Linked DNA regions of Homo sapiens: all the other regions are reported to be linked to region 3. Evidence: microRNA targets listed by miRTarBase, many of them from high-throughput screens and not tested one by one. Region 3 holds a microRNA gene; each other region holds the end of a gene's coding sequence.

What was found. The annotated mature microRNA hsa-miR-6841-3p reads ACCUUGCAUCUGCAUCCCCAG and lies in region 3 at 1,588-1,608, opposite strand. An mRNA with a match to its seed (bases 2 to 7 or 8) in the 3' UTR can be bound and repressed. Matches are read on the target gene's strand: a 7mer-m8 pairs with bases 2 to 8, a 7mer-A1 pairs with bases 2 to 7 and ends in A, and an 8mer does both.
Region 1: the mRNA of SHISA6 is a reported target of hsa-miR-6841-3p. Seed matches in the 3' UTR shown: 7mer-A1 at 3,076-3,082.
Region 2: miRTarBase lists ODF4 as a target of hsa-miR-6841-3p. Seed matches in the 3' UTR shown: 8mer at 615-622.

Annotation. Positions count from the first base shown.
Region 1 is chr17:11,557,825-11,561,877 of GRCh38, forward strand. SHISA6 (shisa family member 6) reads left to right here. Exons shown (of 6, transcript NM_207386.4): 6 at 1-4,053. The coding sequence ends at 480. Among named protein-coding and RNA genes, the nearest start is that of DNAH9, 39 kb to the right of the region's middle.
Region 2 is chr17:8,345,332-8,349,384 of GRCh38, forward strand. ODF4 (outer dense fiber of sperm tails 4) reads left to right here. Exons shown (of 3, transcript NM_153007.5): 2 at 12-146; 3 at 337-715. The coding sequence ends at 521. Among named protein-coding and RNA genes, the nearest start is that of ODF4, 7.5 kb to the left of the region's middle.
Region 3 is chr8:24,952,209-24,956,274 of GRCh38, forward strand. It overlaps MIR6841 (microRNA 6841), which reads right to left and starts at 1,659; the gene lies at 1,588-1,659. It overlaps NEFL (neurofilament light chain), which reads right to left. Exons shown (of 4, transcript NM_006158.5): 1 at 3,264-4,066; 2 at 1,973-2,097; 3 at 1,268-1,587; 4 at 1-744. The coding sequence ends at 602. RefSeq lists an enhancer at 1,955-3,154.

The sequences.
Region 1 (4,053 bases), not on the chromosome of region 3:
CCCCTCAATGTCATCCAGATGTCCCAACAGAAGCCGTTGCCAAGGGAACGACCCCGCCGGCCCATCCGGGCCATGTCCCAGGACAGGGTCCTGTCCCCGGATCGGGGCCTGCCAGATGAGTTCAGCATGCCCTACGACCGCATCCTGTCCGACGAGCAGCTGCTCTCCACGGAGCGCCTGCACTCCCAGGACCCGCTGCTGTCCCCGGAGCGGACGGCCTTTCCCGAGCAGTCGCTGTCCAGGGCCATCTCGCACACGGACGTCTTTGTGTCCACACCCGTGCTGGACCGCTACCGCATGAGCAAGATGCACTCTCATCCCAGTGCCTCCAATAACTCATACGCCACCCTGGGCCAGAGCCAGACGGCAGCCAAGCGTCATGCCTTTGCCTCACGCAGACACAACACGGTGGAGCAGCTGCACTACATCCCGGGCCACCACACCTGCTACACAGCCAGCAAGACCGAAGTGACCGTGTGACCGGCGGGGCAGGGCCGGGGCTGCTGGGCGTGGCAGAGCAGAGCGGGGGCCGGGAGGGGCCAGGAGCAGAGCTTCTAGCCTTGCCACTCTCCCTTCCCTTGTCCCCTCTGTAGGAAGTGGGGGTGGGCCACCTTTGCCCAAAAAGCCATACCCCCGGGGACACAGCCCCGATGGCCTGGTCCAATACACTTAGACCCAGGACCAAGAGCAATCGCTCTTGCTCCTCCAGAAGAATCAGTGGGGAGTGAGGAGGGGGCTAGGCCCCATTCTCACCCCCGACCACCTTCACCAACTCCCTTTCCGTCCCGCGCCTCCTTCTCCCCATCCGGGGGACTCAGCTGCAGGTTCTGTCAGCAGAGAGACCCTTGCTTGACTGTGGTCTGAAGCTGCCTGGGTTTGAAGGGGCCAGCGGGTCCAATCAGTGGGCTGACCGGATAGGCTACTCGGTCTCATTCATTCATCTAGAACCGCATCACAGAAATCTCCTAGTGCCTAAAAACTGCCTGCTCGCTCTCTCAGAGCCAGGGAGCTGCTGTGTCCATAAGCACAATAATGATTCTTTTCTTGCCTGCTGGAACTCTCTGGTCCCCACTGAGTGACCCTTCCTTTGCTGACCCCTGAGGGCCCAACCCTGGCCCTGTGCCCCTCCCCTCAACTCCAGGACCAGGAGGGGTTCCCTTCCTTCAGCTGCCTCCCCATTGGTGGGAACTCCACCCCCTTCCAGCTGACTGCCCGCCCATAAGGACCCTGGGCCTGTCCTTTCAGCGGGCTGTGCTCCTTCCCTGGCCCTGAGGATTTCACCCTTGAGTTTTCTGGGGTTTTGGCTGTAGCCTTCGCAGAGGGGAGTAGCAATGGGGTGCTGGCCCTCCCAGACACCCGATCATCTCCGCACTCCCTCCAGGCCTCTAGACCTGACCATGACTGCCACTCAGGCTGCCTTCTCCACCCCTGCTCTGCTCCCAGGAGGCACCTGCGGTGGCCAGAGAGCCAGGGTGGGGAGGGCCACTGTGATGTGCGGGGTCTCGGGCTCAACATTCGCATCCTGCAGGGCTCCACCTGTTCCCACATGCACCTCCGGCAGGACCTAGACAGAAGTTTCTAGAGAGCAGCTTTTCAGCCCCCAGACAAGGAGGATGAGAGGTGGTTGTCCTGCATCCTCTCCGCTCATCCTTCCTTCCCCATCTCTGTCTACCTGCTCAGTTCAGAGATCACTCCTACTGCCTGTGTCCCCTTCCCCCACATCCTCCCTGCAACTTTATTCCTCCTAGCTGATCCTTCAGATCCGTGCCTCCTCTGGATCAAAGGGACAAAGACCTATTAGCAAAAGCAAACAAAGGTCCTCCAGGCGACTGGCCTAGGGGCTAACTGGGCAGGTCCCCACAGCATCATCCCTTTGTGCAGGCACTGGGGTACCTGGTAGACCATGGTCCTCAGCTCTGTTGGGGGACCGCCACTGCCCGCCCACCTCAGCCTCTTCCCCGCCTCCAGCCTGGGGGTTGGCATGGTGTGACGGCCTCCTGGGGAGGTGACAGTGAATTCAGCAGCATCCGCTCCCCCAAGACCAGAGAGCCTGGTGGGGGAAAGAAGGGGTTCCCTCATTCTCAGGGCCAGGGCACCCGCTGGGTTGGGGCTGGGGGAATCAACTCCAGGCTATTGGGTGAAGGTGTGATCCTAAAAACAGTCAGATCCAACAGCAGTGCCCTTATAAATGGGGTTTTACCTGCCCTCAGTTCTGCACTCATGGCCCTTTAAAAAGGCGAGTGTAGAAGGAGAATTTATTGGTGTCAGCCCTGGAGATTTTTAATCTAACCAAGTCCACAAACCACAGAGAAAGCAATGGACTGTGTCCTTTCACTGATTTCAAGAGTTCCAAAGCTCTCATCTCCTTCTCCCCTCTGCAGGGTGTGCCTCCCAACAGGAACAGGAAACCATCACCCTGGATCTTAGGGGGATGGAGGCTGGGGGTTGTGAAAGCCACTGTCAGACCCCACACTGGGGATGCATTCCTGGAGTCGTGCGGCTGGAAGGCCAGGGACTACCCTCTCTGCTTTCCTCCCAACAGACACATAAACCTTCTTAAGGGCTGGTCCCCAGGGGTTTATAAGAGTTTGTTCCAGAAGGTGAGGCTAAGAGGGTTGGAAAGGAAGAAGTGAGTCTGAATAGAGCAGGTGGCTCCCAGCTGGGCCCCTGAGCCCAGCACCTTTGAATCGTCTAATCTGTGGCCATCCCTTGGAAGGCAGGATGCTGGTGGTGAGGGGAAAGGACCTGAGTGGCTGAGAATGCCCTTCCCAGGTGTCTACATGCAGGTATACACCAAACCAGAAAGCTGATCCCATCTCCAGTGTCAAAGCTTCTCAGCACCAAGTTCTCCAGCCCCCAGGGTGACACTTTTCCCCAGGGGTCCTCCCCAAGCCCTGTCTCTGACAGGGTTTCTGTCTCTCTCAGGGGTTGTTGATGAGTTGATTCCAAGACATTTCTCATCCCAGCCTTACCACTGTCTGGCTGAAAGGCTCTGATGTCAGTTGGGTTGGAAAATTCTACTGCAATGCTTACTTCTTTTCAAGGATTTCTTCTGCTTCACCTTTGGGTCTAGAAGCAAGGAATGAAGGGAGGGAGAGAGGGAGGGAGGGAGGGGAGGAGGGAAGAAAAAAGAAGTAGAGATAGGTCTACAGACTTGCTCCAATTCAGTCCCACATTTCAAAATCCAGAAAACTATGTCATAGCTGGGACAGAGAGGTATCCCATTTATTCAGCTGTCCCATCCATCTTCATGGAACAAGCAAAGCCACATCAATAGGCAAGTTCACGTAGCAGATAAAAGAGGCTTCTGGGGCTGGAACCTAGATGCCATGATTTCTAGCCCAACCAGGCTGGTGGCCTCTACCATACATAGAAGTACCATCCACCCTTACAGTAAAAGCCTCCCTCCTGCTCACAAAGGAAGCCTAAAGCCCAAGATTTCCCTCTCCTTGTTTTATTCATTTTTGCACATCTCTGTTGCTCTAACAGAAATGAACTGGAATCTGCACAGGTTCTCTCCTGCCCTGAAAGTTCTGCCTGGTTTCCTTGGCCTCTGATGGCATTGAAGCTTTCACAATCCCTCCTGCATCTCCACCTTCCCTGTCTTGCTCCAGGCTCCTGGCTCCATGCCTTCCTGTGTCAAAAAGGCTTTGCCAAGAATTACTTCACCTCCTAACCAGGCTTCTGCCCTCAGGGCTCCCCCAGTGTCTTGGGAGTGTCTTGGGCCACACGACTGCCTCTTAGAAAGTTCCAACCTTGCCCCCAATTCAAATTTCTCCTCCCCTCTTTCCACTCTCCCTCCCAGAAACTCCTGATTTCCAGAAAACCTCAGATTTCCAGGCCAGGTCACTCATTCCTTCCTCTCATCTCCCTCTTCCTCCATCTACCTTCCTCCATTCACCTTCCTCCATTCCTAATTTCTTTTCCCTGGTCTTGCTATAATCTCCAGCTCTAAAAATCAGAGCTCTCAATGAAAACAATGGAAGAATAAGACATTCTTTCGGTCTTCTGTTTGCCTCACTGGTGTATCCTTCATCTCCTGCCCCTGTGAGT
Region 2 (4,053 bases), not on the chromosome of region 3:
CTGTCTCCTAGTCACCTTCATCTTCTCCACCCTCATGCTATTCCCCATTAACATCTGGATCTTCGAGTTGGAAAGGAATGTATCCATCCCCATAGGCTGGAGCTATTTCATTGGTTGGCTGGTGCTTATCCTATACTTCACCTGCGGTGAGTGGCCAGAGGGCCCTGGGGGAAGGAAGCGACATGGGTAGGGTAGGGCAGGGAAAGTGTGGAGGGAAGAGGCTGGCAATCCCCAGGGCTAGATTTTTAGGGTCTTATCTTCCCTTTGGTCTCACCCTACTTGTCACTTAACCTCCCAGTCACAACTTTCCTCTCCCCTGTCCCTGTCCTTTCCCAGCGATCCTTTGCTACTTCAACCATAAAAGTTTCTGGAGTCTGATTCTGAGCCACCCCAGTGGTGCCGTGTCCTGCAGCAGCAGTTTCGGCTCAGTAGAAGAATCTCCAAGGGCACAGACGATCACAGACACCCCCATCACCCAGGAGGGAGTCCTGGATCCTGAGCAGAAGGATACACATGTGTAATCTTTTCTGAACTCCTGGCACCAAGTTCTGTCCATTCATCTGACCCCATCTCCTCATCCTCCCCCAGCCCTTGAATAGGTTGGTCCTCATCATTGCAAGGAATGAGAAAGGGAGGATTTTGCACTCCTCTGCTTTCTCCCTGCCTTGATTGAGCTTGAGTGATGTGGAATAAATTGTCCGTCTCTTCTTTCTCATATCTGGCTGTTGTTGAGGCAAGCTAGAGGAGGAGGGAGAGGAAGGGAGAAAGAACAAGTTTGTTTTCCAGTTCTTCCTGCCCAGGAGCCTTTTGGCACCCGTTAGTGCCTAAACCTGCCCAACCTCTACCAGAACATACTTGTACATGGGCAAACGCCTCTGGAGAGCTAAACCTCTTTTTACTTTGTTACCCCTGACCCAACATTTGCTAGTTAGTGGGTGGAGGAGGTAGAGCTGATTAGGAGACAGATATCACTTGCCAACTTGTTGGCTTAAGCATAGTGAAGGATTCAAAAGCCAAATGGCTCAAAGATAAGAGGCAGGTTAAACAAGGAGCACCACAGCACAAGTGGTCAGCCCAGGTGTGTGTCCTGGGCAGCAGTCCCACCCTCTGTGTCCAGCTCCGATGACAGAGCGCATAGAGCCTGTGCCCTGGAAACCACCACTACCACCATCCCCCCAGGCTGCTATAGCTTTCCACCCAAGCCTCCCACACCCTCCACCATGTAACAGCAGGAATAAAACATGGCAACAAAGGAAAGCATTAGGGTTAGGTCCTAAGACCAAAAGGTAAGTTGCATATTTGGGTTTTAAAGTTAGCTTGGGGAATGCTGGCAATGCCCATCAGGCTTTGGACATGTTGCCCAGAGAGGCCAGCCTCCTAGGAGAGCATCCATAGCTGATCTTGGTCATGTCTATCCCTCCAGATGAAACCACAATACATCCTGCTGATTGGTAGAGCCCAGTGGTCTGTTTTGATAGGGCGCTGATTGGTGCGTTTACAATCCCTGAGCTAGACACAAAGGTTCTCCACGTCCCCACCAGAGCAGCTAGATACAGAGTGTTGATTGGTGCATTCACAAACCCTGAGCTAGACACAGGGTGCTGATCGGTGTGTTTACAAACCTTGAGCTAGATACAGAGTGCCAATTGGTGCATTTACAATCCCTTAGCTAGACATAAAGGTTCTCCAAGTCCCCACCAGACTCAGGAGCCCAGCTGGCTTCACCCAGTGGATCCCACACCGGGGCTGCAAGTGGAGCTGCCTGCCAGTCCCGCGCCGTGCGCCCGCACTCCTCAGCCCTTGGGTGGTCGATGGGACTGGGCGCTGTGGAGCAGGGGGTTGGCGCTCGTCAGGGAGGCTTGGGTCGCACAGGAGCCCACGGAGGGGGTGGGAGGCTCAGGCATGGCGGGCTGCAGGTCCCGAGCACTGCCCCGCGGGAAGGCAGCTAAGCCCCGGCGAGAAATGGAGCTCAGCGCCGGTGGGCTGGCACTGCTGGGGGACTCAGTACACCCTCCGCAGCCGCTGGTCCGGGTGCTAAGCCCCTCATTGCCCGGGGCCTGCAGGGTCGGCCGGCTGCTCCGAGTGCAGGGCCCGCCAAGCCCACGCCCACCCGGAACTCCAGCTGGCCCGCAAGCGCCGCGCGCAGCCCGGGTTCCCGCTCGCGCCTCTCCCTCCACACCTCCCTGCAAGCTGAGGGAGCCGACTCCGGCCTTGGCCAGCCCGGAAAGGGGCTCCCACAGTGCAGCGGTGGGCTGAAGGGCTCCTCAAGTGCCGCCAAAGTGGGAGCCCAGGCAGAGGAGGCGCCGAGAGCAAGGGCTGTGAGGACTGCCAGCACGCTGTCACCTCTCACAGGGACAAATTGTGAGTGGATCAGGTATGTTAAAAATATATGTATTAGGTTGGGCCGCGTGAGGTGGCTCATGCCTGTAATCCCAGCACTTTGGGAAAACTAGGTGGGCGGATCACTTGAGGTCAGGAGTTCGAGACCAGCCTGGCCAACATGGTGAAACTCCGTCTCTACTAAAGATACAAAAATTAGCCGGGTGTGGTGGTGCATGCCTGTAGTCTCAGCTACCTGGGTGGCTGAGGCATGAGAATCGCTTGAACCTGGAAGATGGAGGTTGCAGTGAGCCGTGATCGCGCCACTGCAGATTGAACCATATATGTTGTGTTAGTAGTTAAATGTGGCAATTTTATATGGTTCAACCTAATGTATATGATCGACTTTATTTATTTATTTATTTATTTATTTATTGAGACGGAGTTATGCTCTTGTTGCCCAGGCTAGAGTGCAATGGTACCATCTTGGCTCACCGCAACCTCTGCCTCCCAGGTTCAAGCGATTCTCCTGCCTCAGCCTCCCTAGTAGCTGGGATTACAGGCATGCACCACCATGCCGGCTAATTTTGTATTTTTAGCAGAGACGGGGTTTCTCCATGTTGGTCTGGCTAGTCTTGAATCCTGATCTGCCCGCCTCAGGTGATCGGCCCGCCTCAGCCTCCAAAGTGCTGGGATTACAGGTGTGAGCCACCACGCCCAGCTGACTTCTATTTAATATGAGCCCTGTCTGAGATTCTTGTTCTTACCACACCTGATCAGCAATTGTAGCATTCCTAACCCAGGAAAGATTCCTAACAAAGGAAAGATTCTGAGCAAGGAACATAATACAAGGGCTTGAAAATTAGGCACAACAGATATTCCACAAATCTCTACTCTGTATCCCACTTTAATCCTCTCCCCAGTAGCGAACAAGGATTTACTAGGGGACTTACTGAACTAGTCATCCTGGAGGAAGGGACACCAAATAAAGGAATGTCATGGTCTCTGCCTTAGGTACAAACACACGTATGTATAATGTAATTAGAGAAACTGACTTAGTGATTTTGTAGGGGTCACAAACTCAAATGCATACAGGGGCTAGGTGGGTAACATAAATAAAGGGGGCCACTCTCACAGTCTGTATATAATTTTTCCCTTTTGATAAAGATCTGGTGTATTAGCTATTTATTGCTGGATAACAAATTACCCCACATTTAGTGGCTTAAAATAATAAATATTTATTATCTCACATCATATCTGAAGGCCAGGAATGTAAAAGCAGCTTAGCTGAATAATTTGTCAAAATTATTTAAAAAATTTTAAAAAACTTTTAAAAATTATTTTATCATATACAACATGATGTTTTGAAATAGGTTTACATTGTGGAATGGCTGAGTTGAACTAATTAATGTATGCATTCCCTCACATACTATTTTTTGTGGTGAGAACACTTAAAACCTACTATCTCAACGTTTTTCAAAATGCAATACATTGTTATTGACTATAGTCACCATGTTGTACAATAGGTCTCTTGAACTCATTCCTCCTAATTAAAATCTTATAGTTTTTTTTTTTTTTTTTTTTTTTTTGAGATGGAGTCTCGCTGTCTCCCAGGCTGGAGTGCAGTGGCGCGATCTCGGCTCACTGCAACCTCACGCCATTCTCCTGCCTCAGCCTCCCGAGTAGCTGGGACTACAGGTGCCCACCACCACGCCTGGCTAATTTTTTTGTGTT
Region 3 (4,066 bases):
ATAACTGTATCCCTCAGAATTTCCAATTGAAGGAAGAAAAAAAAGTATTGGTAATTGTTAAAATTTCAACTTTTTAAAAAATTGGAGGTCAATAGTCCACTGGTATATACTTTATATTGGTGCCATCTTTAAGGTATTTTAATTAAGTAACAACCACAGCAAAAAATACATCATTCGGTATAACTTTATTTACTATTTATTGCACATAACTCAGGGTCTTTAATTGCTAACCACCGAAGGTTCAAAGGACTATTTTTCCATGAAGTTTAACATTAACATTAGTGAATTCATTTACTCATGTGGTGTTTTTTATTGTAAACATCTGAATGATTCACATTGCCGTAGATCCTGAACTCATAAGCGTGGTCCATGCACAGGCTGGCAGCAAGCCAGAAAGCCACTCTGCAAGCAAACAGATACTCTGCATAAAGAGGAAATTCATAGCACAACATTGAATGTCCAACCTAAGTCATCTCAGAATTATACATATATTGACTTTTTAATTCACATAGAATCTGGAACTCAACTGGTTGGTTGGTTGGTGATGGGGTTGACCTGATTTCGGGAGAATTATTCCTGAAATAATTAAGGAAATGGGGGTTCAATCTTTCTTCTTAGCTGCTTGTTCCTCCCCAGCACCTTCAACTTTCTTCTCCTCCTCTTCAGCTTCTTTGGTTTCCTCTCCTTCTTCACCTTCACCTCCTTCTTCTTCTTCTTTTGCTTCTTCAGACTCTTCCTTGGCAGCTTTAACATAAAAAGAAAATGTACAAAATGCAAATCCAGGGTAAGTCCAGTCAAAACATGTCTGCAAAGGTTTTATTTGCAAACACAACTGTCAGAATGCTACCAAAACCTCCCAGCTCCACTCTCTCCAAAAGCACATGTAACAGACAAAGCTTGCCATGAATAATTTGCCACTGAACACATATTTAAATCGAATGAGATCACTTCTAGGTATGGGAAGCTCTGCTCCTCTCCAAGACTTAACCTCAATATTTCTTTCATTATGTGTCTGGTATCTATTTTTGTTCTTTAGGACACCAACCTGCTGTGTTAAATGATTATATTAAAAAATGAAAATTTTGACCAATCACCTCATTCAGAGTAGATGCCTTAGGAAAGTTTTGCTAAACAAACAGAAAATTTATTTATGATTCTAATGTCATATATGAATAAATGAGCAAGGCTTCATTTGTCTTATCCACCTCCTAACAAATCTCCACACCCAGTTTACACTTGAAGTTGCAGGGGTTTTTTCTTATCATACCTTCTTCCTCTTCAGCTGCCTCCTCTTCCTCGGCCTCTTCCTTGTCCTTCTCCTCCTCCTCGGCTTCTCCTTCAGAGGGGGGCTCATCCTTGGCTTCCTCAGCCTTGGCAGCCTCAATGGTTTCCTCCACTTCGATCTGCTCCTCTTGGACATGGCTGGTGTAGTAGGACGGGAAGGAGCGGGTGGACATCAGATAGGAGCTGGTCTGTAAACCGCCGTAGGCAGATCGGCCAAAGACCTGGGAGCTCTGGGAGTAGCCACTGGTTATGCTTCCCACGCTGGTGAAACTGAGTCGGGTCTCCTCGCCTTCCAAGAGTTTCCTGGGGATGCAGATGCAAGGTGAGGTTAAAAAACACCTGTGTTTCACAACTTGCTCTGAGTACCCTAAACACAAAGGCAAGCAGGAGCAGGGCTGGGATTTATCAATACTTAATGCCTGGGGATCTTTTGATGGAGACCAGAAAAAATATAAATAAATCATCCTATTAGATTTAAAGTGTAATGACAAGATAAAAACAGGACTCCTAATTACAGGGTTAAATTCTTATATATCTAAATACCCTCTTCTTGGAAGAAGCCAAAAACTAACACTTCATTATTTCAAAAGGACTATTATTGAAGGTTTCTGATCCAACATAACTTTAAATGGGATCTGATTTTCTTCCTAAGGTTTAATGGCTGCTGTCTTTGCCCCTCTATTTTCACCTGTAAGCTGCAATCTCAATATCCAAAGCCATCTTCACGTTGAGGAGGTCTTGGTATTCTTTTAGGTATCGTGCCATTTCACTCTTTGTGGTCCTCAATTCATTTTCTAATTTGTTGATCGTGTCCTGTTTGAAGACAAAAATAAAACAAAAAAAAAATCCGAGCATAAATCCCTTCTATTATTTTACTGTAGTGTAGTTGCAAAGGCCTAGTTTCGATTAAAATCAAGGTGCACACCTTTGATAAAATCTCTCCTAGAATAACTTCCTGTATCTTTTGAAAAACCTTCATGCCTAAAATACCCAAGTTCATGAAGCCTGAGATGAAAAAAAAGATGGACGAAAATTCTGTTCTTCTGTTTCTTTACTTAATACTGTTTAATGATCATCATAAAATGCATGCAAACAGACTAAGTTGATAGAAAAACTGTGTCTCTCATTCACTGATTAACTCTTCTTTAGCTGGGTTACATGCCAGGAAACTAATGCCTTTCTTTATGAGAAGAAAATAGCCAGATGTAAACAAAAAAAAGAAAAAAATTATTTTCTATGAAATATTTCCTATGTATCTAAATTATTTTTTCTACTCCCCAGAAGAAGAAAAAAATTTCTACTCCCCAGAAGATGGAGATGTTTTAAAATGGAGATCTTTTTAAAATTGTATTTTTTCTACTCCCCAGAAGATGGAGATGTTTAAACAGAAATGTTGTAGAAGATTTTACACATAAAGAAAAAAAGAAAAAAAAAAGGTAAAAGGAAATGGTTTACTATGAACATCACTAGTTAACTACCTAAAACAATGTTGACTATTTTCCTGTCTACCTACTAAATAAAGGAAGGGAGTGGTTGGTAAAACTAGTCATAAAGCATGCTGGTCACAGTAATCCTTCAGAATTAATTGAGAGTTGTTCACTCTACTATTTATTAACTAGATGATCCGATAGTTGCTGCAAAGTAACTTGTGGTTAATGCAGGTCAGTAGAGAGCTGATCTCACTGCAGGCCGGAGGCAACGCCCAATTCCCACGTCTTCCCCTCCCCCACCCAACAAGGGCTGGGCAGCTTTAATGCGGAACGCCGGTGCAGCAGCACGGAGCACACTCCCAGACTACAGTGGCGCCCGCACTCACGCCCTTCAAGTGCCCCACCCCTCCCACACAGTGGCCAAGGAGCCAAGCCCTATCCCTAAGAGCTGCGTGCAGCCGCACCACCCCTGGTCTCCACTTTCTGGGCGCACCAACTCCCCCCCTTGCTCGAGTCCCCCGCCCCCCTGTGTTTCTGGCCGTGCCGCACCTGCATAGCGCTGATGTCGGCGTTCTGCTTGTCCTCCAGCTCCTGCAGCTGCTTCTCCAGCGCTTCATTCATGCCCCGGCATGCTTCGATTTCCAGGGTCTTGGCCTTGAGCAGACGACGGCTCTCGGACACCTCGTCCTTGGCGGCGCGCACGGCGTCGGTGTTCTTGGCGGCGCTCTCGGTCAGCACGGTGAAGCGGCTCTTGAACCATTCCTCAGCGTTCTGCATGTTCTTGGCGGCCAGCTTCTCGTACTGCGCGCGGATGTCCTTGAGCGCGGCGGAAAGGTCGGGCTTGGTCACGTCCATCTCCACGGAGATCTGCGCGTACTGGATCTGCGCCTGCAGTTCGGCGATCTCCTCTTCGTGCACTTTCTTCAGAAAAGAGATTTCGTCCATCAAGCTGTCGATGCGCTTCTCGAGCTCGGCGCGAGCGAGCGCCGCCTCGTCGGCGCCTTTGCGCGCTTCCATCAGCCGGCCCTCGGCGTCCTCGCGGCTCAGCACCTCCTCTTCATAGCGCGCCTGCAGGTTGCGCAGGGTCTCCTCCAGCCCTTCGCGCTCGCCCTGGAGCGCCTGCTTCTCGTTGGTGGCATCTTCCGCCGCCAGGCGCAGGTCGCGGATCTCCTGCTCGTACAGCGCCCGGAAGCGGGATGGCTCGGAGTGCTTCTGGCGCAGCACCAGCAGCTCGGCTTCCAGGACCTTGTTCTGCTGCTCCAGCTCGTGCACGCGCTCGATGAAGCTGGCGAAGCGGTCATTGAGGTCCTGGAGCTGCGCCTTCTCCTGCGTGCGGATGGACTTGAGGTCGT